Linked DNA regions of Homo sapiens. The protein of the gene in region 1 purifies or fractionates together with the protein of each later gene. This does not show direct contact. Each region holds a gene or a part of one and is shown in the gene's direction. Other genes may lie near its edges.

Region 1 (3,856 bases):
ATTGGCTCCTTGGTTTTGATTGGAAAATATCAAGTTGGAGAATACCTTGACCTATCTGATTTTACTACAATTTAACCCTTGATCATTTCATTATCACGTGAGACTGATTATGATAGTGACTAAGGCAAGTCAGTCTGTTCGGTTATTAATAGATCAAGTGAATAGTTTGACCAAAAACTTCAGATTTGGGGGCTTTGGATTCTGTTTCTCTAGATATAGAGTGACTTGTTAGCATTGCAATTTCAAATTGCGTTTTATCTTAAATAGACAAATATATGAAGTGCATATGGCTCAAATGAGTCCATTTCATACCCTGAGTTACTTAGGATTACATCTTGAACTTCCTTGATGTGTCTGTGGACGGTTGGGGAGGTTTAGGCTAATACATCATTTTTCCCTCCTTGGATAGAATGTGGTCATTAATTAAAGGTTGTAGGCAGATCTTTTTCTATCTAATAGCTGACATTTATATCACATGCATGCTATCTATTTAGCAATTGGATTTACTTTCCTTTTTTTCTGCTAGTTTTAGTTACCAGTTATTCACTAAGTGCCCTTATCTGAACAGACATTACACTGGTTGAATTATCACTTGTATTAGGTCAAATGGAGAGTTAAACAAGCTTTTGATTACTCAGGCTTAACGTTTAGATGCACTAAAGCAGAAGTCTTGGTTTTATCTATGGTTCATTTCTGTAAAATGGAAGGAGTCTTTATCTTCTATTCAATCTTTTGTAATCTTTATTTTTTCCGTTAGATCCAGAGATAGACTGGAAATCTTTTACAGTCTTTATATGTAAGATCCAGGCGGGGGCAGGGGGAATGGCTTGGTCTGTTATCTGCCAGGGTTTAATTTTGAGACATGGCCGTTTCACAACTGCAGGGTGCGGGAAGATTAGATGACCTGAATGCTGGTGGTAAGTAAAGCCTCACACTTCACATTATTCCTTAATTGTCTGTTTTTAAAAATTTGTCTTAAAAAAATATTAAGGTGGCAACATATTCAGGTGGCAACAGAGGGTGGGGTGACCAGTGACAAACTGACTTCCATGTCTCTGGCTAATCTTGATTTCTGGAGCCAGGCTCCAGACTAAGTCTGGACAATCAATTAATTAGCCTTTCTATATGTATTGCCTGATGAATGATTTCAATGCTGGACATTGAACAATGGTCTGTTGCAACAGGGTGAGGCCATTGTCTCTGGCAGGTGGGGAGATGGGGGCTCTTGTTAGCTCCATTTGATTACAAGAGCCTTGAATCACCAAAACATAAAGATGTACTCGAATAGAAGAGTCCGTTGTCTGACTGGTAAATTTAAGGATGTGTTTGACCCTCGTGCATTAAAACAGACAATTGGCCGGGTGCGGTGGCTCACGCCTGTAATCCCAGCACTTTGGGAGGCTGAGGCAGGCAGATCACAAAGTCAGGAGATCCAGACCATCCTGGCTAACACGGTGAAACCCCATCTCTACTAAAAATACAAAAAATTAGCCAGGCGTGGTGGCGGGCGCCTGTAGTCCCAGCCACTCGGGAGGCTGGGACAGGAGAATGGCGTGAACTCGGGAAGCGGAGTTTGCAATGAGCCGAGTTGGCGCCACTGCACTCCAATCTGGGCAACAGAGCGAGACTCTGTCTCAAAGAAACAAACAAACAAACAAACAAAACCAGACAATTGAGGCGGCCAGCTGCATTTCATAATTCCTCCCATAAGCTTCCTCCTATTTGCCACTTGTTTAGCAATGGAAATGGAGAACGAAGATGGCCTCAAAGTGACTACATCACCAGTGTTACAAAAATGGGCCAGAATTTAAGGCAAGAATTATATGTTTCTTAATAGAGGGATGTTTCTCTGTGTGTGGCTACTTGTATTCCTGTGGATTTTTACCAGATTATAAGAGCTGCTAATTTCTGATCAGAACAGAGACCAAAAATTGGAGATATGGATGTGGGGATGATTCTTTTGGGTACCGATAGACTGCAGGAATCGCAGGGCTTCCTTTAAATCCATTACAGCTTATAGGCTAGTGGATGAATAAGATAAGTGGAGATTTTCTCTTGAAATATTTCCTTCTATGAAGAAAAGGCCTTGAAATGTGCATCCTCTTTGGGTTGACTAATTTCTATGCCTTTACAGCTTTAAGCTGACATTATAAGATTATTCTAGTTTGGATCTTGTAAGATAATTAACAAAATGGAAATAAAATGTTTTGTTTTTAAAAATGCTAATAAATTATTTATTTTCCTTTGTCTTAGTTAGTTTTAATACATATTCAGTGCTTAAAGAACACCAGTGCAGGAAAACTCAAACTAAATGGCATCATCCCCCATCTCTATAATTCTATATGCAGTAGCCATTCATGCGAAGTTAGAAATTAGAATTTATAGCACTAAGCATTCTAAGAAAAATTAAGCCAGTACGTTTATCTCTTGAAAAAAAAAAAAGCAACTAAATTTCCTTGAACCGAATTCTTTTTTTTGGCTCACTGCAACCTTTGCCTCCCAGGTTCAAGCGATTCTCCTGCCTCAGCTTTCCGAGTCGCTGGGATTACAGGCACCCACCACCACGCCCAGCTAAGTTTCTGTATTTTTAGTAGAGATGGGGTTTCACCATGTTGGCCAGGCTGGTCTCAAACTCCTGACCTCGTGATCCACCCGGCTAAGGCAGGAGAATGGCGTGAACCCGGGAGGTGGAGCTTGCAGGGAGCCGAGATGGCACCACTGCAGTCACCACTGCAGTCCAGCCTGGGCGACAGAGAGAGACTCCGTCTCAAAAAAAAAAAAAAAAAAAATCAAAAGCATGTGTTTACCCTTATTAATGATTTTTATTTAAAGTCATTGCATAGCAATATTCATTTAATGTTTATTTTTTAAAAAAATTAATGATTGAGAACTTAAATTTATAAGTAGGGTAAATTACTCACAAATTTAAGTAAAATTTGAAGCCAATATGATGGCTTCTTACATATTCTTTCGAAAACTTCATGCACATGAAAGTAGATAAAAATGGCACAGTCTTTTCCATTTAAGAAAAAGATCATATCACATATAGATTTAGGTTTTGGATGTCTTTTCATATCAGGACATAAATAACTGCCCCCATTCTTATTAATTTGGGTGCATAAATTTCCCTTTTGTGGGTTGAAGCCCTGTAACGATTTAACCAATTCCTTGGGTTTATATTTAGATTGTCCTCGTCCATAAGTGTAATTGCTGAATTGCAAGCTTTATATGCATTTAAAAATTTAACCCGGCAAGGTGCGGTGGCTCACGCCTGTAATCCCAGCACTTTGGGAGGCCGAGGCAGGTGAATCACAAGGTCAGGAGTTCGAGACCAGCCTGGCCAACATGGCGAAACCTCGTCTCTACTAAAAACACAAAAAATTAGCTGGGTGTGGTGGCAGGTGCCTGTAATCCCAGCTACTTGGGAAGCTGAGGCAGGAGAATCTCTTGAACCTGGGAGGGGGAGGTTGCAGTGAGCTGAGATCTCACCACTGCATTCCAGCCTGGGTGACAGTGCAAGACTCCGTCTCAAAAACAAAAACAAAAACAAAAACAAAAAATTTAACCCTTCCTAAATTGACTTTCCAAAGAGGTTCTACCACTTTGCAGTTCCACCGTGGAGATCAGCACTCGTTTTCCCATGCTTTGCCTTCATGGGTATCAGATTTTCCAATACTTGCCAATGTGCTAGGTGAAGAATGGTACCTCAGTTTCCTTGGTGCATTTTTAACTGTGAAGTTGAATGCCTCATCATGTTTCTCTGCCATGTGCTTGCCATCTGATCATGCACTGGTCTGGCTGTCAGAGCATGAAAGGCTATGGTTTGTTTCACTGTTAATTAATTTTCATTTTCATT
Region 2 (3,500 bases), on another chromosome or scaffold:
TTATAGAAGATCAGTGACTCACTTTGGTCCAAAGCCAGTTTGTTCATGCTCTTTGGCCCTTGGTTTCTACAATCAATTGATGTTAAATATTTTCCTTTTTGCTTATAATTATATATATTTTCTGTGATCATAACATTATGATATTTGGTGTTTATTTGGTCTTCACCTCAGAGTTAAATATTGAAGAGTTTGGTGGTGGCAGTGTCCTTTAGCACAGTCCTAGGACTGTTTCTGAGACTTGCCTTGGTCTGCTGGAAAAGAGGGCCAGGGATATGAGATGTTAGTGGCTGTTTTAGCATCAGGCTTCTATGTTGTGGGTCTGCAGAGGGCTGTTTCGTAACAGTCTCACTTAGTTTAGCCTGTCCTAGAAAGTTGTTCTTGCCAGCAGACCTCATACTTTATAGGGAAGCTCATTCTGTTTTTGAACTTTGACTAACTTCCTTAAAATTGAAAGTATACATATTTGGAGAAATGTAATGTAGAAAAGTAGGCAGTTTTGTCTTGAAAATGACCATTATAGGTTTCTTACAACATTTCTAGTATTCATCTTAGAGTAGCATTTAGGTTTGCTGGTCACCTGTTATCTATTTTGTCAGCAATTAAATTTTTTTTCATAGGTTCAAGGAAAGGACCCTTCCGTGGACATCACTCAGGACCTTGTGGATGAATCTGAAGAGGAGCGTTTTGATGATATGTCATCGCCAGGCTTAGAATTGCCATCTTGTGAATTAAGTCGCCTTGAAGAAATTGCAGAACTTGTGGCATCATCTTTACCTTCACCTCTTCGTCGTGAAAAACTTGCACTGGCACTAGAAAATGAGGGTTATATTAAAAAGCTCCTGGAGCTTTTTCATGTGTGTGAAGATTTGGAAAATATTGAAGGACTGCACCACTTGTATGAAATTATCAAAGGCATCTTTCTCTTGAATCGAACTGCTCTTTTTGAAGTTATGTTCTCTGAAGAATGTATAATGGACGTCATTGGATGTTTAGAATATGATCCTGCTTTATCACAACCACGAAAACACAGGGAATTTCTAACAAAAACAGCCAAGTTTAAAGAAGTGATTCCCATATCAGATCCTGAGCTGAAACAAAAAATTCATCAGACATACAGAGTTCAGTATATACAAGATATGGTTCTACCAACTCCTTCGGTCTTTGAAGAAAACATGTTATCAACACTTCACTCTTTTATCTTTTTCAATAAGGTAGAGATTGTTGGCATGTTGCAGGTGAGTTAGATCATTCCTTTTTTCATATTTCAAGAGATGCAGCGAAAACAATTTGCTCCTTTTAAATACATACATTGAGTTTTAATTTTGTTAATGTATAAAGTTAAGTATTGTGAGTTATTTTAAGAGATTATAATATACAATAATAATACGAGACCAGAAGGTTACTCTATCTGGGGTAGGAGAGGTAAGTGTGACAAATGTAGTTTGAAGAAATGGTATGAGGGGATGATTTTTTGGATACAGGGTCTTGCTCTGTCACCCAGGCTGTAGGGCAATAATGCAGTCTCAGCGACTGCAACCTCCACCTTCGCTTCCCTGGCTGAAACAATCCTCCCACTGCAGCCTCCTGAGTAGCTGGGACCACAGGTGTGCACCACCACCCCCAGCCAATTTTTGTATTTTTTGTAGAGATGGAGTTTGTCATACTGCCCAGGCTGGCCTCAAACCTCTGAGCTCAAGCAATCTGCCTGCCCTGGCCTCCCAAAGTGCTGGGATTACAGGTGTGAGCCACTGGGCCCAGCCTGATTTTTTTTTTTTTAAGTTGAGGTCTTGCTCTGTTGCCCAGGCTGGAGTGCAGTGGCACAGCCATAGCTTATTGCAACCTTGAACTCCTGGGCTTGAGCCGTCCTCCCACCTCAGCCTTCCAATTAGCTAAGACTACAGATGCATGCTACCATAGCCACCTTTTAAAAATTTTTTTGTAAAGAATGGATCTCACTTTGTTGCCCAGGCTGGTCTCAAACTCCTGGCTTCAAGCAATTCTCCCACCTTAGCCTTGCAAAGTGTTGGGATTACAGTTGTGAGCCACCATACTCAACTATAGGAGGATAATATTAATGAAATGGTTGAATGCTGAACTTTGGGGTTATTACTCTATGAATTTTGCATAGAATAGAACAGATTGGAAGAGGAAAGAGTGAAGCACAAAGCCAAGAGAAATGTCACCAAACACAGAATATAAATTCTAATGAGAATTGTGGGCCAGGCGCTATGGCCTGTCTCTACCAAAAAAATAAAATTTAAAACGAATTTGTAAAATTCCCAGATAATGATACGGTAAAAGTCCAGTTTCAGGGTCTAGGGAATGTAGCAGAGGAGGCAAATTATAACTGCATGTATCCCTACCAAAAGCCACGTTTTGCTAAGGGGTGTGCCTGTGGGTGAGTTAAACCCATGTGAATTTGAGTTTCAGCTCCGTCTGTCACTTAATAACAGTAGCTATGTGAGTTGGGCAGCCTTAACTTCTTAAAGCTTCGGTTTCCCCATCTGAAGGATGGTGACATTAATGCCTACCCTGTAAAGTTGTCTGAAAATTAACTGAGGTCAGGCATGTAAAGAAAGTGTTTAATATGATGTAAGATTCATGGGAATTTTTTAAGTGTCTATTGATAATTGCTTATTAAAATGTAGATTTTTTTTTCTTATAGTATGCCCAATCTCTCTGATCTGGTGTTTTAGGGTATTTGCATCACAGTCCCCTAGGGTGCAGTATCATGAATTCTGCACAAAACCTGAGTCAAAGTCTCTGAGAGCTAGACAATAATTTGCGTTTGTAACACCCCCAAAATTAGAAAAGCTCTTACTGTGTCATCCCAGTGTGTGAATTGGTCTATTCTAACTGAAATAGAAGTTTACATAGGCTGGGCCTAGTGGCTTATACCTGTAATCCCACCACTTTGGGAAGCCAAGGCAGGAGGATCGATTGAACCCAGAAGTTAAAGACTAGCCTGGGGCTGGATGCGGTAGCTCACGCCTACAATCCCAGCACTTTGGGAGGCCAAGGCGGGTGGATCACCTGAGGTCAAGAGTTCAAGACCAGCCTGGCCAACATGGCGAAACCCCGTCTCTACTAAAAATACAACAATTAGCTAAACGTGATGGTGGACGCCTGTAATCCCAGACTCGGGAGGCTGAGACGAGAGAATCATTTGAATCTGGGAGGCGGAGGTTGCAGTGAGCTGAGATCACACCATTGCACTCTAGCCTGGGCAACAGGAGTGAAATTCTGTCTCAAAAAAGATTTTTTTTTTTTTTTAAATTAGCCAGGTATGGTGATGCATGCCTATAATCCCAGCCATGTGGGAGGCTGAGTTGGGAGAATCGCTTGAGCCCAGGAGTTTGAGTCTGCAGTGAGCAATGATCATGCCACCGCACTCAAGCCTGAGCAACAGAGTGAGACCCTATCTCAACAACAAAAAAATAAGTTTGTGTAGTACAAAGAAAGAATTGTTATTTGCACCCATACACACACACACACACACA
Region 3 (3,856 bases), on another chromosome or scaffold:
TTTCATTTTGAATTATAGCATCTCTGAATTTACATATCCAATAAAAATGACTTGATTTTTTAATGTCAATTTTCTTCGGTAGCAAATGCCTATTATTATTGCTGGAAATGATCAACAAAAGAAGAAGTATTTGGGGAGAATGACTGAGGAGCCATTGATGTGTGTGAGTATGTGTAACTGCCGCTTTATTTCACACTTAAGAAGGGAACAAAGGTGCTATTTCTCCTTTTCAGTCTATATGTATATATTGGGATATTTAGCATTGAAACAAAACTTAGCAACATATTATTACAATGATGTGTCAAGGATGCCAAGAAAGTATCATAATAGGCCGAGGGCAATGGCTCGCACCTGTAATCCCAGCACTTTGGGAGGCGGAGGCGGGCAGATTACTTGAGGTTAGGAGTTCACAGCCTGGCTAACGTGGTGAAACCCCATCTCTACTGAAAATACAAAAATTAACCAGGCGTGATGGCGCCTGCCTATAATCCCAGCTGCTCAGGAGGCTGAGGCATAAGAATCGCTTGAACCCGAAAAGTGGAAGATGCAGTGAGCAGAGATCACACCACTGCACTGCTACCTGGGCGACAGAGTGAGTGAGACCCTGTCTCAAAAAAAAAAAAAAAAAAAAGGTGTCATCATAATTTTGTTGCTTATTTCCAGGAGAAGAGAGATCTACTTGTGATGTTTTTGGGATGTCAAAAAGTGTCATAATAATCCTCTTACTTCAGGAGAGAGAGCTCTATTTAGTGGAGCATTCTACACTTTAAGAACTGAGTCATTGTGTCAGGAAGTTCAGATTGAATGTAGGGCAATGTGTGTTTGAACTAGTAGTGTTTTGAATTAGTAAAAAATTAATGTTGGCTGGTCGTGGTGGCTCACGCCTGTAATCCCAGCACTTTGAGAGTCTGAGGCAGGTGGATCACCTGAGGTTAGGAGTTCGAGACCAGCCTAGCCAAAATGGAGAAACCCCATCTCTACTAAAAATACAAAAATTAGCTGGATGTGGTGGCGCTTGCCAGCTACTTGGGAGGCTGAGGCATGAGAATCTCTTGAACCTGGGAGGCAGAGGTTGCTGAGTAAAGATGGCGGCACTGCACTCCAGCCTGGGCAACAGAGTGAGACTCTGTCTCAAAAAAAAAAAAAAGCAATTAATGTGGGCTGGGCATAGTGGCTCACACCTGTAATGTCAGCACTTTGAGAGGCTAAGGCAGGAGAACTGCTTGAGCCCGGGAGTTCAAGACCAGCCTGGGTAACACAGTGAGACCCTGTCTCTAAATAAATAAATAAATGAATAAATAAATAAAAATTAATGTGAACCTGTAACTGAAGAAATAGCAACTTATTTGTTGAATGACTGAATGACTTGGGAAGAATAGTTGTAGAGTTTATTTAAACCTCTGAAAGCAACTCAACAAATTTTTAAATTAGATTTTTTTAACAAGATAAATACACACACAGACATACACACACACACACACACACACACACACACACGCTCTATTCTGAAACTGTTGTTTACCTAAGGATTTTTACTTCTTGTTTACTCAAACATATTTCAATCTAAGGTGTGGTTGTTATACTGAAATACAGTAGATGTATTAGTTTTGAGCTAATGATGAGAATTCATCTTAAAGAACAGAAAATAATATTTGAAAATAAATGTTTTTTATTTCAGATACCTAAAATTTCAAGCAAACTGTTTAATAAAGGAATTTGTACATATTTGCTAGGAAATTTGCAATTTTTTTTAACAATTGAGAGGTTAGCTAAACATTCTCACTATTGTCTATAAGAACTGTGTGAAACGTCTAGATTGTTCTCCTGTAGCATATACAGTCAGCTCTCCATATCCATGAGGGAATAGTTTAGGACAGGTTGCCCTCCATATCAAAATTTTTGGTTGCCAAGTCTGTTATACAAAATGTACAGTTAGCCCTTTGTATCTGTGGGTTTTGCTCCACAGTTGGTTAAATTCCAAAATTCGTGGATGCCAAAGGCAAACTTTTAAAAAATTAAAATTTTATAACTTTTCTAATTATAAAATACTGAGTATAGAAAATTTAGAAATGTTTTAAGTAGAACAAAAATATCTGTAATCCCTCAGATATGGAGTTAATTAGTATTACTTCCTTATTGTAGTGCCTACCACATTTTTAAATATGTAATTGTGTTTTTAACAGTTAGCCCCCATTATATACATGTAGTTTTATGTACATCTTTATTTAACAACATGAACATTTTCTTATGCCTTCCTTCTTTTTACATGCTGTAACAATACTGCATAATTTGCTATCTAATGGATATGCTATAAATTGTTTCACTTTTCTGTACTGTTGAATGTTTAAACTCCTTGGGTTTTTACTTTGGAAAATAATGTTATGGTAAAAAATAATACAGAAAAAAAATAAATAAAAATGATCAAATAAGAAGCCAAGAACAGGCCAGGCATGGTGGCTCATGCCTGTAATCTTAACACTTTGGGAAGCCAAGGCAGGAGGATCGCTTGAGGCCAGGAGTTCAAGACCAGCCTGGACAACGTTGAGAGACTGCCACCACACACACACACAAATATATATATATATATATATATATATATATATATATATATATATATATGAAACCAAAAAGAAGAAAAGAAGACAAAAACAACTCTGAGGAACCAGTAGTGACAAGCCATTTTGTATAGAAAAAAACAGGCTCATTTACTTCACAGGCTCTAAAAACTTCACTGTATTATGAAACAGACAGATGTCTAATAGCATATTTCAGGGAAAAAAATACCTTAAAGGTGGTTAAAACAAAATTTTGGTACTTAAAAGGGGCATCTTTTATGGACAACTCCTTAATTTGTCATGATGCTGAATACATCAAATCTCCAGGTAGCAGAGTAATCTAGTTCAGTTAACTTGAGTGACACCTGAATCCCCTCTACAGAATCCCTGTCAAAAGACCATCTGGCTGACATGTTTTTATACCTCAGGTGCCTGGGAATCAACACCTTCTGAAACAGCATCATTTGCGAGCATCTGTTATCATTAGAAAAATATTTTGGATTACATAATGCTTAAGCACAGAACCTGTCATTTTTTTTTTTATAATTTTACCAGTTCATACTGTAATAGGTGTTCAATAAATGTTAGAGTGATTTCACTGTACTTTTCTTTGGCTATATTGCCCTTCAGATGTTTGAGTATAGTTATATTTATTTATTTATTTATTTTTTGAGACGGAGTCTCGCTCTGTTGCCCAGGTCGGAGTGCAGTGGTGTGATCTTGGCCCACTGCAACCTCTGCCTCCCAGGTTCAAGCGATTCTCCTGCCTCAGCCTCCCAAGCAGCTGGGACTACAGGTGCGTGCCACCACGCCTGCCTAATTTTTTGTATGTTTAGTAGAGACAAGATTTCACTGTGTTAGCCAGGATGGTCTCTATCTCCTGACCTCATGATCTGCCCACCTTGGCCTCCCAATGTGCTGGAATTACAGGTGTGAGCCACCATGCCCAGCCAAGTATTGTTATTATTTTTTTTTTCTGAAATGGAGTCTCGCTCTGTTGCCTAGGCTGGAGTGCAGTGGCACCATCTCGGCTCACTGCAACCTCCACCTCCCAGGTTCAAGCAATTCTTCCTCAGCCTCCCAAGTAGCTGGGATTACAGGCGCCCGCCACCAAGCCTGGCTAAGTTTTTGTATTTTTAGTAGAGACAGGGTTTCACCATGTTGGCCAGGCTGGTCTCGAACTCCTAACCTCAGGTGACCCACCTGCCTCGGCCTCCCAAAGTGCTGGGATTACAAACCTGAAGCCTCAGCCACCACGCCCGGCCCTAAGTAATCATTTCTAGTGCCCCTATATATGCTTA
Region 4 (3,856 bases), on another chromosome or scaffold:
TCAGCCCTCTTACCCTTTCAGACCTCACTGACCCCTGACACTGCCAGCCCTGTCACTTGCCCTCAGAATATCTTATTTGATTTTTTTTGAGCCGGAGTCTTGCTCTGTTGCCCAGGCTGGAGTGCAGTGGTGCAACCTCAGCTCACCACACCCTCCGCCTCCTGGGTTCGAGTGATTCTCCTGACTTCGCCTCCCACGTAGCTGGGACTACAGGCGCATGCCACCACACCCAGCTAGGTTTTGTATTTTTAATAGAGATGGGGTTTCACTATGCTGGCCAGGGTGGTCTCGAACTCCTGACCTCATGATCCACTAGCCTTGGCCTCCCAAAATGCTGGGATTACAGGCGTGAGCCACTGCGCCTGGCCTACCCTCAGAATATTTCTGTGAGGGGTGGGCTAGGATATCCGCTTGTGGACTTTATATTTGTCATTTTTGCCCATAACAGTTTATTCAGCAAATACATTTCCAATGCCCCCGAGTCGTCAAAGAAAATGTGACCCTGCTGTCTGGAGTCATAGGTGGCTGCTGAGCAGTGTACCAGGGCCATCTTGGTGGCCTGGACAGCACATTAGAGAAACAAGAGCTGCTTGCCCCAGGGTAAGTTTCACAGATGAGGAGCGATTTGGGCCGAGTGTCCAAGGCTGTTTTCACTGGAGGGGAGGGAGGAACGTTCCATGTCTGGAAAGCTGCAGGTGCAAGGGTAAGGAGATAGCTCTGAATAATTGGTTTGATGAAAGACTTGCGGGAGTGTGCAGGAGTGATGGTGAATGAGGCTAGCAGTTGTGTCTTTTCTGTCAGATATAAGCTTGTGCGTAGGAGCCTCATCCTGCATTCCTCAGGACAGTCACAGAGCCAGCCCTGGGCCTGGTGTGTGGGGAGCCCAGCCACGTGGCCCACCATGAGAGCTTTTCGTCAGAGCTCCAACTGTCAGAAGTGTCAGATGTGCCAGTAGAAGGATGAGGCCGCCTCCTAAAGGAGAGGGAAGACCTGGAAAGATCAACAGCAGACGCAGTCTCCCAAAGCAAACGTGATTCTGTGGTCAGGCAGGTACGGTGACGGGTTGGTCATTTTGCATGACGAGGTGACTGCCACAATCACCAAGGGTGCCGAGTCCAGTCTCCTGGTCATGCCAGATGCTCTTGTTTTCGTGAAATTGCCAGAACATGACTGAGGCAACCACGATAGGACTGGTTGGTGCAGGCGTTAAGATCTTGGGCCTTTTTGTTCTCTGTAAGCTGGAGCCTTTGCTGGAACTTCCTGTCTTGGAAATCAGAGTTGTGAGAGTAGGTCCCCTGCCAGCACCAGGAAGGTCGGGAGAGCTGGTTTCCTCACTTTGCTCAGGGCTCAAGTACTAGCTAGTTTGTTTCATCTTCCAAAAAGAGCCTCACCTGGACCCCGCTCCTGTAGGTGGTGCCTGCCTGCTGCGCCCTCCCCTTCAGTACTTCGTTTTGTTGACGGGTTTTGCCTCCTCCCTCTGCTCTCCCTTTGTTTGGAGCCTGTGCTGTTTGATTTCCGTGTCTTGTGTGCTGCACCCTTCAGGAGAATTCAGGTGAATTTCTGGTGCTCTCCGGCTGTTCTTTTCAGAGTGGAGGGGAGTAGTACTTGCTGGTCAGTTGCGACTCTGTCTGTGAAACAGCTCTTTGTGTTGCTGAGATGACGCTAGAGGTGTAGCGTCCATGACATGTTTGTCGTCTGATTAAGCTGTGGTGCTGGCACTTAGACGGCAGAGGAAGGTGTGGCCCAGCTGTCCAAGGCCACCAGGAGGACCTTCAGCTTAGTTAGGACCAAGGGAACTGAGTTATCTGAGTGCCTGAAAAAGAACACATCAGGCCGGGCGCGGTGGCTCTCGTCTGTAATCCCAGCACTTTGGGAGGCCGAGGTGGGTGGATCACTTGAGTTCAGGAATTTGAGACCAACCTGGCCAACATGGCGAAACCCCGTCTCTACTAAAAATACAAAGAAATTAGCCAGGGTGGTGGCAGGCGCCTGTAATCCCAGATACTTGGGAGGCTGAGGCACGAGAATTGCTTGAACCTGGGAGGTGGAGGTTGGAGGTTGCAGTGAGCCAAGATTGTGCCACTGCACTCCCTCCTGGGCGACAGTGCAAGACTCTGTCTTGGAAACAAACACATCAATCCGAATGTAAGAGATTAGCAAAGCGTTTATTGGTTACTGGGTGAGTAGTTGGCCTAAGCTAAGACAAAAGAGGAATCTCCAAGTATTTTGCTACCCCTTGGCAGGAAGAGAGGGAATGCAGCTTGCGGGGTGGGGATGGGGGTGTCAGGTTGATAAGAAAACTGTGGGAAAATAAACATTTACTCCTGCCCCCCATGTCAGTAAATACCATGTGACAAAGGTGAGTTCCATGAAAGAGGCTGTTACTGAGGCCTGTGATACTTGCTTGTCTCAAAATGCTGACATATCTTTTTTTTTTTTTTTTTTTTTTTTTTTTTTTTTTGAGACAGATTCTTTCTGTCGCCAGGCTGAAGTGCAGTGGCATGACCTCAGCTCACTGCAACTTCCGCCTCCTGAATTCAGGCAGTTCTCCTGCCTCAGCCTCCTGAGTAGCTGGGACTACAGGTGCATGCCACCATGGCCAGCCAATTTTTGTATTTTTAGTAGAGACGAGGTTTCACCGTGTTGGGCAAGATGGTCTCAATCTTTTGACCTTTTGATCTGCCTGCTTTGGCCTCCCAAAGTGCTGGGATTACAGACATGAGCTACCACGTCGGGCCTGACAAAGAATCTTGATAGCGATTGAAAATGTATCCATTCATACTCAAATGAAGTAAAAAGTGCTTTTGGGTTCAAAGCCAGAGAATGTTCATGGATGGCGTTTTTGGTGCCTCAAGTGTAGCCAGCTAGAACTTTTCTTACCACCGTCCTGCTTAGTCCTACTGAAGACCTGCCTTCTACTAGGAAGCTGCTCTTAGTCCACAAAGTGGCTTCCCTGTAGTTCCACAGCATTTAACAAAATAGATTTCAGGGAGTTTATTTGTGGTGTGGCTGGTTATTTCTGCTAAAACCACTAGGAATTACCATAAAAGCTGTAGCTTGGAGAAACAGTATCTACTTGCGGGAGTATTACTGCCACCTGTGTTTTTTTTGTTTTTGTTTTGGTTTTTGTTTTTTTTTTGTTTTTTTCAAGATGGAGTCTTGCTCTGTTTCCCAGGCTGGAGTGCAGTGGCACGAACTCGGCTCACTGCAATCTCCACCTCCCGGGTTCAAGCAGTTCTCCTGCCTCAGCCTCCCAAGTAGCTGGGGCTACAGGCATGCACTACCGTGCCCGGCTAATTTTTGTATTTTTAGTTGAGGTAGAGTTTCACCATGTTGGCCAGGCTGGTCTTGAACTTCTGACCTTGTGATCTGCCTGCCTCGGCCTCCCAAAGTGCTGGGATTACAGGTGTGCGCCACCGTTCCCAGCCCTGCCATTGGCTTTTTAACCAGGTGAATTCCTGTAGATTGGGTAGATTGAAAGGACATGTAGCTGAATCATTGGTTTTAAAAGGAATGGCTCAGTTACTTCATAGCCATATAATTAAGAAATGTGGCTAGAAGGTAAAAAATTGGCCAGGCCTGGTAGCTCATGCTTGTAATCCCAGCACTTTGGGGGCTGCGGCGGGAGGATCCTGTGAGTTTAGGAGTTTGAGACCAGCCTGGGCAACCTAGAGAGACCCCCATCTCTACCAAAAAACCCTTTTTTTTTTTTTTCCAATTAGCTGGGTGTGCCTGTGGTCCCAGCTACCCAAGAGGCTGAAGTGGGAGGCTCCCTTAAGCCTTGAGAAGTCGAGGCTGCAGTGAGCTGTGATCACGCCACTGCACTACAGTCTGGGTGACAGAGTGACAGTGTCTC
Region 5 (3,856 bases), on another chromosome or scaffold:
ATGGTGTTTCACCATATTGACCAGGCTGGTCTCAAACTCCTGACCTTGTGATCTGCCTGCCTCAGCCTCCCAAAGTGCTGGGATTACAGGTGTGAGCCACCGTTCCCGGCCTACCCAAAATAATTTTAAGCAGGGAGTTAAACAGATAGTTATACTCCAGTGCTCATTGCAGCATTATTTACAGTAGTCAAAAGGTGAAAACATGGCACGTGCCTGTAATCCCAGCACTGGGGGGCCGAGGCGGGCGGATCACCTGAGGTCAGGAGTTTGAGACCAGCCTGACTAATATGGTAAAACCCCATCTCTACTAAATTAAAAAAAAAAAATTAGCTGGGTGTGGTGGTGTGCGCCTGTAATCCCAGCTACTCGGGAGGCTGAGGCAGGAGAATCTTTTGAACCCAGGAGGTGGAGGTTTCAGTGAGCGGAGATCACGCCATTGCACTCCAGCCTGGGCAACAAGAGCGAAACTGTCTCAAAAAAAAAAAAAAAAAAAAAGGTGGGCCAGGCCCTGTGGCTCATGCCTGTAATCCCAGCACTTTGGGAGGCCGAGGTGGGCGGATCACGAGGTCAGGAGATTGAGACCATCCTGGCTAACACAGTGAAATTCCGTCTCTACTAAAAATACAAAATATAAGCCGGGCGTGGTGGCGGGTGCCTGTAGTCCCAGCTACTCGGGAGGCTGAGGCAGGAGAATGGCGTGAACCCAGGAGGCAGAGCTTGCAGTGAGCCGAGATTGTGCCACTGCACTCCAGCCTGGGCGAGAGAGTGAGACTCCGTCTCAAAAAAAAAAAAAAAAAAAAAAAAAAAGGTGAAAACAAACCAGGTATCCAGGTATACATCCATAAATGAATGGATAAACAAAATATGGTATATATATACATAAGACCGAGTGTTGCTCTGTCTCCCAGGCTGGAGTGCAGTGGCACGATCCTGCTCACTGCAACCTCCACCTCCTGGGTTCAAGCAGTTCACTTGCCTCAGCCTCCCGAGTAGCTGGGATTACAGGCGTGTGCCACCATGCCTGGCTAGTTTTTGTATTTTTAGTAGAGACGGGGTTTCACCATGTTAGCCAGGCTGGTCTCAAACTCCCAACCTCAGGTGATCCACCCGTCCCGCCTCGACTTCCCAAAGTGATGGGATTACAGGCATGAGCCACCATACCTGACCATCCTTAAGAAGGAATGAAATTCTTATTCATGTTACAGCATTGAAAATATTATCCTAAATGAAATGAGCCAGATACAAAAGGACAAATAATGTATGATTCCACTTACAGAAGGTAACCAGAGTAGCTAAATTCATAGGGACAGAAAGTAGAAGAGAGCTAACCGAGGGCTTGGGGGAAGGTGTAATAGGGTGTTATTGTTTAATAGGTACAGAGTTTCAGTTTGGGATAATGAAAAAGTTCTGAAGTTGGATAATGGTGATGGTTGCACAATGTATGTACTTAATGACACTGAATTGTACACTTAAAATGGTGAAGTGGCACATTTTATGTACATCTTACCACAATTTAAAAAGGAAGAAAAAATGAATTGTATACCCAATGACATTAGAATAAGTCTACACTACTTAAATTAGAAATAGGATATGTTTCAACTCCAGAGCCAATAAAAAAAAGAACAAGAAGTATCATATGTAATAACTGTATATAGCAAGGAAGCTTTGCTTAGTGAGGTCCTTGTGACTAACCACCAATTCAGTTTATAAAATTGTATCCTATTGGAAAGAGTCAAAAAACTTACTAGCTGTTATTTTAATAACAGCTTTAATATCAAACAGGACATAACTTCAAAGTATAAAGTATTATAATGCGTATTTAATGTTGAGAGATGCCTGAAGAGTATAAACTTATTAATAAATTACTGTAGCTGCATACAAACAATAAATCGACATTCAGAATTGTTTCACTTCTGTAATTACCATAAAGCATTTATACTTGCCGGTCTCTCAGCATTTTTTTTTTTTTTTTTTAGGTAACAGCTTTATAGAGATATGCTTCACATACAAGTCAACTATTTAGAATGTATAATTGGTTTTTCATATCTGTGTGCAGCCGTCACCATAATAATTTTTTTTTTTTTTTTAGACGGAATTTTGCTCTTGTTGTCCAGGCTGGAATGCAATGATGTGATCTTGGCTCACTGCAACCTCTGCCTCCCGGGTTGAAGCAATTCTCCTGCCCCAGCCTCCCGAGTAGCCAGGATTACAGGCGCGTGTCACCACGCCCGGCTAATGTTTGTGTTTTTAGTAGAGATGGGGTTTCATCATGTTGGCCAGGCTGGTCTTGAACTCCTGACCTCAGGTGATCTGTCTGCCTCGGCCTCCCAAAGTGTTGGGATTACAGGCATGAGCCACTGCACCTGACCAACCATAACAATTTTTTTTTTTGAGACGGAGTCTTGCTCTGTCGCCCAGGCTGGAGTGCAGTGGCGCGATCTCGGCTGACTGCAAGCTCCACCTCCCAGGTTCGTGCCATTCTTCTGCCTCAGCCTCCCGAGTAGCTGGGACTACAGGCGCCCACCACCATGCCTAGCTAATTTTTTGTATTTTTTTTTTTAGTAGAGACAGGGTTTCACCGTGTTAGCCGGGATGGTCTCGATCTCCTGACCTCGTGATCCGCCTGCCTCGGCCTCCCAAAGTGCTGAGATTACAGGCATGAGCCATCGCGCCTGGCGCCATAACAATTTTTAGAACATTTTTCCTCACTCCAAAAAAAGTCCCATATACTGTTTTGTTTTTCTTTTCTTTTTTCTTTTTTTTTTTTAAAGATGGAGTCTCTCTCTGTTGCTCAGGCTGGAGTGCAGTGGTGAGATCTCAGCTCACTACAATCTCTCCCTCCTGGGTTCAAGCAATTCTTGTGCCTCAGTCTCCTAAGTAGCTGGGATTACCGGCATGTGCCACCATGCCCAGCTAATTTTTGTATTTTTAGTAGAGATGGGGTTTCACCATGATGGCCAGGCTGGTCTCGAACTCCCAACCTCAGGTGATCTGTCCACCACGGCCTCCCAAAGTGCTGGGATTACAGGTGTGAGCCACTGCGCCCGGTCACCATACACTTTAGTCATCACCTCACCAACACCCTCATTCCCCTCATCCCTAGGCATCCTCTAATCTACTTTTGTCTCTACCATTTGCCTATCCTGCATATTTCATATAAATGGAATCATATAATATGTGTTGTTGTTGTTTTTTTTTGAGCGGAGTCTTGCTCTGTCGCCCAGGCTGGAGTGCAGTGGCGTGATCTCAGCTCACTGCAAGCTCCGCCTCCTGGGTTCACGCCATTCTCCTGCCTCAGCCTCCCGAGTAGCTGGGACTACAGGCGCCCGCCACCACACCCGGCTAATTTTTTGTATTTTTAGTGGAGATGGGGTTTCCCTGTGTTAGCCAGGATGGTCTCGATCTCCTGACCTTGTGATCCGCCTGCCTCAGCCTCCCAAAGTGCTGGGATTCCAGGCGTTAGCCACCGTGCCCAGCCAATATGTGGTCTTTTGCCGCTGGCACTTAGCATAATGTACTCAAGGTTCATCCATGTTGTAAGCATGTATCAGTACTTTTTTTTTTTTTTTCCTTTTTCCACTTGTTCTAAATAAACTTCATTTCTTTTTATTGCTAAATACTATTCTGTTGTCTGGAAATACCATTCATTTCTGGATATACCATTTATCCATTCATATGTTGATGGACATATAGATTGTTCCCACTCTTTGACTATTATGAATAATGCTGCTACGAATATTTGTGTGTACAAGTTCTGTGTGGAGCTGTTTTCATTTCTCATAGGAGTAGAATTGCTGGGCCATATAGTAGCTCTGTTTAACCTTTTGAGGAATTGCCAGTCTGTTTTCCAAAGTGG
Region 6 (3,856 bases), on another chromosome or scaffold:
TTTCTGTGGGTAGAATTCTGGGTTAAAAGGCACCATCTTTAACATTTAAAAACTACCCTAAAGGTTTAATTTGTAAAAATATTTGATAATACCTTTTTCTTCACAACCTCAAAAACAATTATTATTTTTATGTTTGCCCATATAATAGAAAAACTTTCAGCTCTTAGTTTAATTTGAATAATTTTGTTCTTTAATTTGCATAATTCTGGTTACTTAATTTGCATAATTCTGATAGTGGTGATGCTTGTCATTTCATATTTTTATTGACCTTTGAAATTTCCTGGTTTATGTACAGTCATGTGCCACATAACAACCTTTAATTCAATGATAGACCACATATGTGACAGTGGTCCTATTAGATTATAAAACCATATTTTTACTGTACCTTTCCTGTGTTTAGATATGTTTAGATACACAAATACTTCGCATTGTGTTACAGTTGTCTACACTATCACATGCTCATAGGTTCATAGCCTAGGAGCAATAGGCTATGCCATATAGCCTAGGTGTCTAGTAGGCTATACCATCTAGGCTTGGGTAAGTACACTGTTAGGATGCTTGTACAACGATGCAGTCACCTAACAATACATTTCTCAGAACGTATCTCTGTCATTAAGGGACACACGACTGTATTTCCTGTTGGGTCTTTGACCTATTGTGGTAATGTTTATGTTATGCTTATTTATCGGAATTTTTGTGTTTTATTTTTCTCTTCCCTTAAGTTTGGTTTGGACTTTTCTGCTGATCTAAAGTTTTATGTTTTCCACATAGTTAAGTTTATCTAGAAAGTTTTTTCTCTCCTTCAGATTATAAAAACATTCATTGATCCATCTTTTTATTTAATATATATATATATTTGTAATTTATAATTTGTTTGGAATTTATTCTGATTTTACCTGTAAAGTAGGGATCTGACTTTGAATAGACTAATTTTCCCCACTGATGTATAATGCAATATTTTATCAAATACTAAAATTCTATATTAGTACATAAGTCTCTTTCTAGACTTTTGAGTAATCCCTTTGGTTTTGTACCAGTATTAAGTCATTTAGGCTACTGTATTTGTTATTTGTTGAAATAAGTCTTTCTTTTATCAGATATTTGTTTCACTTTTTAACACAAATATAAAGGCGTTAAGCCTAAGGTAAAAGGGATTCTTTTACTAAAGTTGTTTCCATTATTGAAGTGAGAAAAATGTAACCAGAGGGTGATGTGGAACTTTCCCCATGAAAAGCATTGTAGTTGAAATGCTAAAAGTTGTGCTTCAAGGGAGTTTAAGTGGCTTTAGTTGAACTTTATAATCTACAAGTTTGTTTATAAAAAGTATTTCTACAAGAAATGTACCTTGTATTTCTACTAAATAAACAACTCTCTTTTAAAGCATTAGTTTTGTTCATTAATTAGTGACTCCCCTTATATTTTAATCTTAAAGTGTTTTGGTTCTGTGTAGGTATAGAAAACTCTGTCAATTTTATAATCATTAAATAAGAATTATATTTACGTAATTATAAAAATAATAGTCTTTAGTCATTTAAATGATTTTTGACATTTTTCAACAACAAACTCTACTAGAGTCTAGGAACTAGACTGCACTTTTTATTTTTTGGAGATGGAGTTTCACTCTTGTTGCCCAGGCTAGAATACAATGGTGTGATCTCAGCTCACTGCAACCTCTGCCTCCGCAGTTCAAGAGATTCTCCTGCCTCAGCCTCCCAAGTAGCTAATTTTTTTTTTTTTTTTTAATAGCAGAGATGGGGTTTTACCATGTTGGCCAGGCTGGTCTCAAACCCCTGACCTTAGGTGATCCACCTACCTCGGCCTCCCAAAGTGCTGGGATTACAAGCGTGAGTCACCATGCCCGGCCTAGACTGAACTTTTTTTTTTTGAGATGGAGTTTCACTCTCGTTGCCCAGGCTGGAGTGCAGTGGCACGATCTTGGCTCACCACAACCTCTGCCTCCTGGGTTCAAGCAATTCTCCTGCCTCAGCCTCCCGAGTAGCTGGGATTACAGGCATGCGCCACCACACCTGACTAATTTTGTATTTTTAGTAGAGATGGGATTTCTCCATGTTTGTCAGGCTGGTCTCGAACTCCCGACCTCAGGTGATCCACCCACCTCAGCCTCCCAAAGTGCTGGGATTACAGGCATGAGCCACCACGCCCAGCCTAGACTGAACTTCTTGAGAGCAGTCGGGGCTGTGTTTGTCCTTTGAATAATTTTTTTCTGTTGAATGAACGTATATGCATCAGTAAATCCCCTACCCAAAGTAGGCTATCAGAATGTTTACAGAATTGAGTTTTAAAAACTGAAATATAGTAAATGGTTTGGAAATTTAGGAAAGGTGGATATAATTTCTTATTAATGTAATGCTCTTATTTTATCTTAGGTGACCGAACTAGCAGTTGCCCAGTGATCTTCATATTAGATGAATTTGATCTTTTTGCTCATCATAAAAACCAAACACTTCTCTATAATCTTTTTGACATTTCTCAGTCTGCACAGACCCCAATAGCAGTTATTGGTCTTACATGTAGATTGGTAAGTCTTTCTGTTCATTAAAAAAATTGATTATAATATTTTAAAATTCAAGCTTAATTGCTGACACTGCTAGTTTTTTTCACTTATTTAGGTCATTTTAAAAATTTTGTTTCAGCAGTGCCTGGTGTATTTATCCTGCTTTCAACTCAAATTGAGGAAAACAGTTTAGTAGTTACCTTAGCCCATTAATGAATACCTCCCTCCTCCCAGTGAAATTACTGAAGAAAAAAGTATGAAATCAGATTATGCTAATAAATATAATTTCTACATTATCAAGTAATGAGGCGGTTAAATCTCACCAATATTTGAGAAAACTTGGTAATAGTTTTTATTTTAAGATTTTTTTCCATATTTTGAAAAGGCTTGAAATCAACTCTAAGTAATACTATTCCAACTTTCAAAGTACACATCTCCAGAAATGGAAAAGATTCTACCAAGCACTGACAGTAGATAGTGGCTTCTTCATTCCATGGGATATTTTAGAATGATTTTAACTATAGTCTCAATATCACTATCACTTTGCCTTGTGAAGGCTCTGTACATATTGAACCATGTGTACCTTTGGACAGCAGTACAGGCCTTTTTGTGTTTACCTTCTTACACGCATGTAGTATTAACTTACTGAATTCAGATAAAACTGGTATTGAAGAGTGCCTTGGCCCATTTTGTGTTGCTATAACATAATACCTGAGACTTGGTAATTTTTAAAGAAAAGAAGTTTATTTATCTCACAGTTCTGCAGGCTGAAAAATTCAAGCGCATGGCACTGGCTTTGTTGCAAGGGTTTTCATGCTGCATGACATGGTGGAAGGTCAAATGGGGAACCGAAATGTGCAAAAACGAACCAGATAGGAGTTGGAACCTCAATTTATAACAACTCACTGTCTCAAGAACTAATCTATCCCCATGAGAACAAGAACTCACTCCAGTAAGAAGGCATTAAATCTATTTATGAGGGTCCACTCCAGTGACTTCCCACTGTTGCACTGGCAATTAAATTTCAACATGAGATTTGGTGGGGACAAACCATATCCAAACCATAGCAAAGTTGTCTCTTTTCTCATGCTATGACTGCCATGCCTCCATAGCTTTCTTGCAATCCTCTTCCCCCTCCATTCTCGGCAGATGTGTCAGGCACATTTACATGTTCACATCTCCTTTCCTACAACCCTTTTTCTTTTTCAGAAAAGTGAAACTTTTTTCTAATTCATATTTCAACAGTCCTCCTTCCAGTGCTGTTTCTCTATAGAGTGACTGTCATTTGCCCCTCCTTTCCTGTGCTCTAGAGCTTATGATACATGGCTTTAGTATAAACAT

What was found.
Region 2: the proteins of AKAP12 (region 1) and PPP4R3A fractionate together in Homo sapiens (co-fractionation; one large-scale study listed by BioGRID). This does not show direct contact.
Region 3: the proteins of AKAP12 (region 1) and ACADM purify together in Homo sapiens (affinity purification with mass spectrometry; one large-scale study listed by BioGRID and IntAct). This does not show direct contact.
Region 4: the proteins of AKAP12 (region 1) and TRAP1 purify together in Homo sapiens (affinity purification with mass spectrometry; one large-scale study listed by BioGRID and IntAct). This does not show direct contact.
Region 5: the proteins of AKAP12 (region 1) and PRKAR2A purify together in Homo sapiens (affinity purification with western blotting; 2 studies listed by BioGRID and IntAct, with this or other methods). This does not show direct contact.
Region 6: the proteins of AKAP12 (region 1) and ORC4 purify together in Homo sapiens (affinity purification with mass spectrometry; one large-scale study listed by BioGRID and IntAct). This does not show direct contact.

The regions. Positions count from the first base shown.
Region 1 is NC_000006.12:151,242,888-151,246,743, forward strand, and holds part of AKAP12 (A-kinase anchor protein 12), read left to right. Parts: intron 1-3,856. UniProt on the Homo sapiens protein: Anchoring protein that mediates the subcellular compartmentation of protein kinase A (PKA) and protein kinase C (PKC).
Region 2 is NC_000014.9:91,479,311-91,482,810, reverse strand, and holds part of PPP4R3A (serine/threonine-protein phosphatase 4 regulatory subunit 3A), read left to right. Parts: intron 1-617; coding exon 618-1,235; intron 1,236-3,500. UniProt on the Homo sapiens protein: Regulatory subunit of serine/threonine-protein phosphatase 4. May regulate the activity of PPP4C at centrosomal microtubule organizing centers.
Region 3 is NC_000001.11:75,734,709-75,738,564, forward strand, and holds part of ACADM (medium-chain specific acyl-CoA dehydrogenase, mitochondrial isoform a precursor), read left to right. Parts: intron 1-82; coding exon 83-163; intron 164-3,856. UniProt on the Homo sapiens protein: Medium-chain specific acyl-CoA dehydrogenase is one of the acyl-CoA dehydrogenases that catalyze the first step of mitochondrial fatty acid beta-oxidation, an aerobic process breaking down fatty acids into acetyl-CoA and allowing the production of energy from fats.
Region 4 is NC_000016.10:3,710,891-3,714,746, reverse strand, and holds part of TRAP1 (heat shock protein 75 kDa, mitochondrial isoform 1 precursor), read left to right. Parts: intron 1-3,856.
Region 5 is NC_000003.12:48,837,519-48,841,374, reverse strand, and holds part of PRKAR2A (cAMP-dependent protein kinase type II-alpha regulatory subunit), read left to right. Parts: intron 1-3,856. UniProt on the Homo sapiens protein: Regulatory subunit of the cAMP-dependent protein kinases involved in cAMP signaling in cells. Type II regulatory chains mediate membrane association by binding to anchoring proteins, including the MAP2 kinase.
Region 6 is NC_000002.12:147,951,056-147,954,911, reverse strand, and holds part of ORC4 (origin recognition complex subunit 4), read left to right. Parts: intron 1-2,387; coding exon 2,388-2,539; intron 2,540-3,856. UniProt on the Homo sapiens protein: Component of the origin recognition complex (ORC) that binds origins of replication. DNA-binding is ATP-dependent. The specific DNA sequences that define origins of replication have not been identified yet.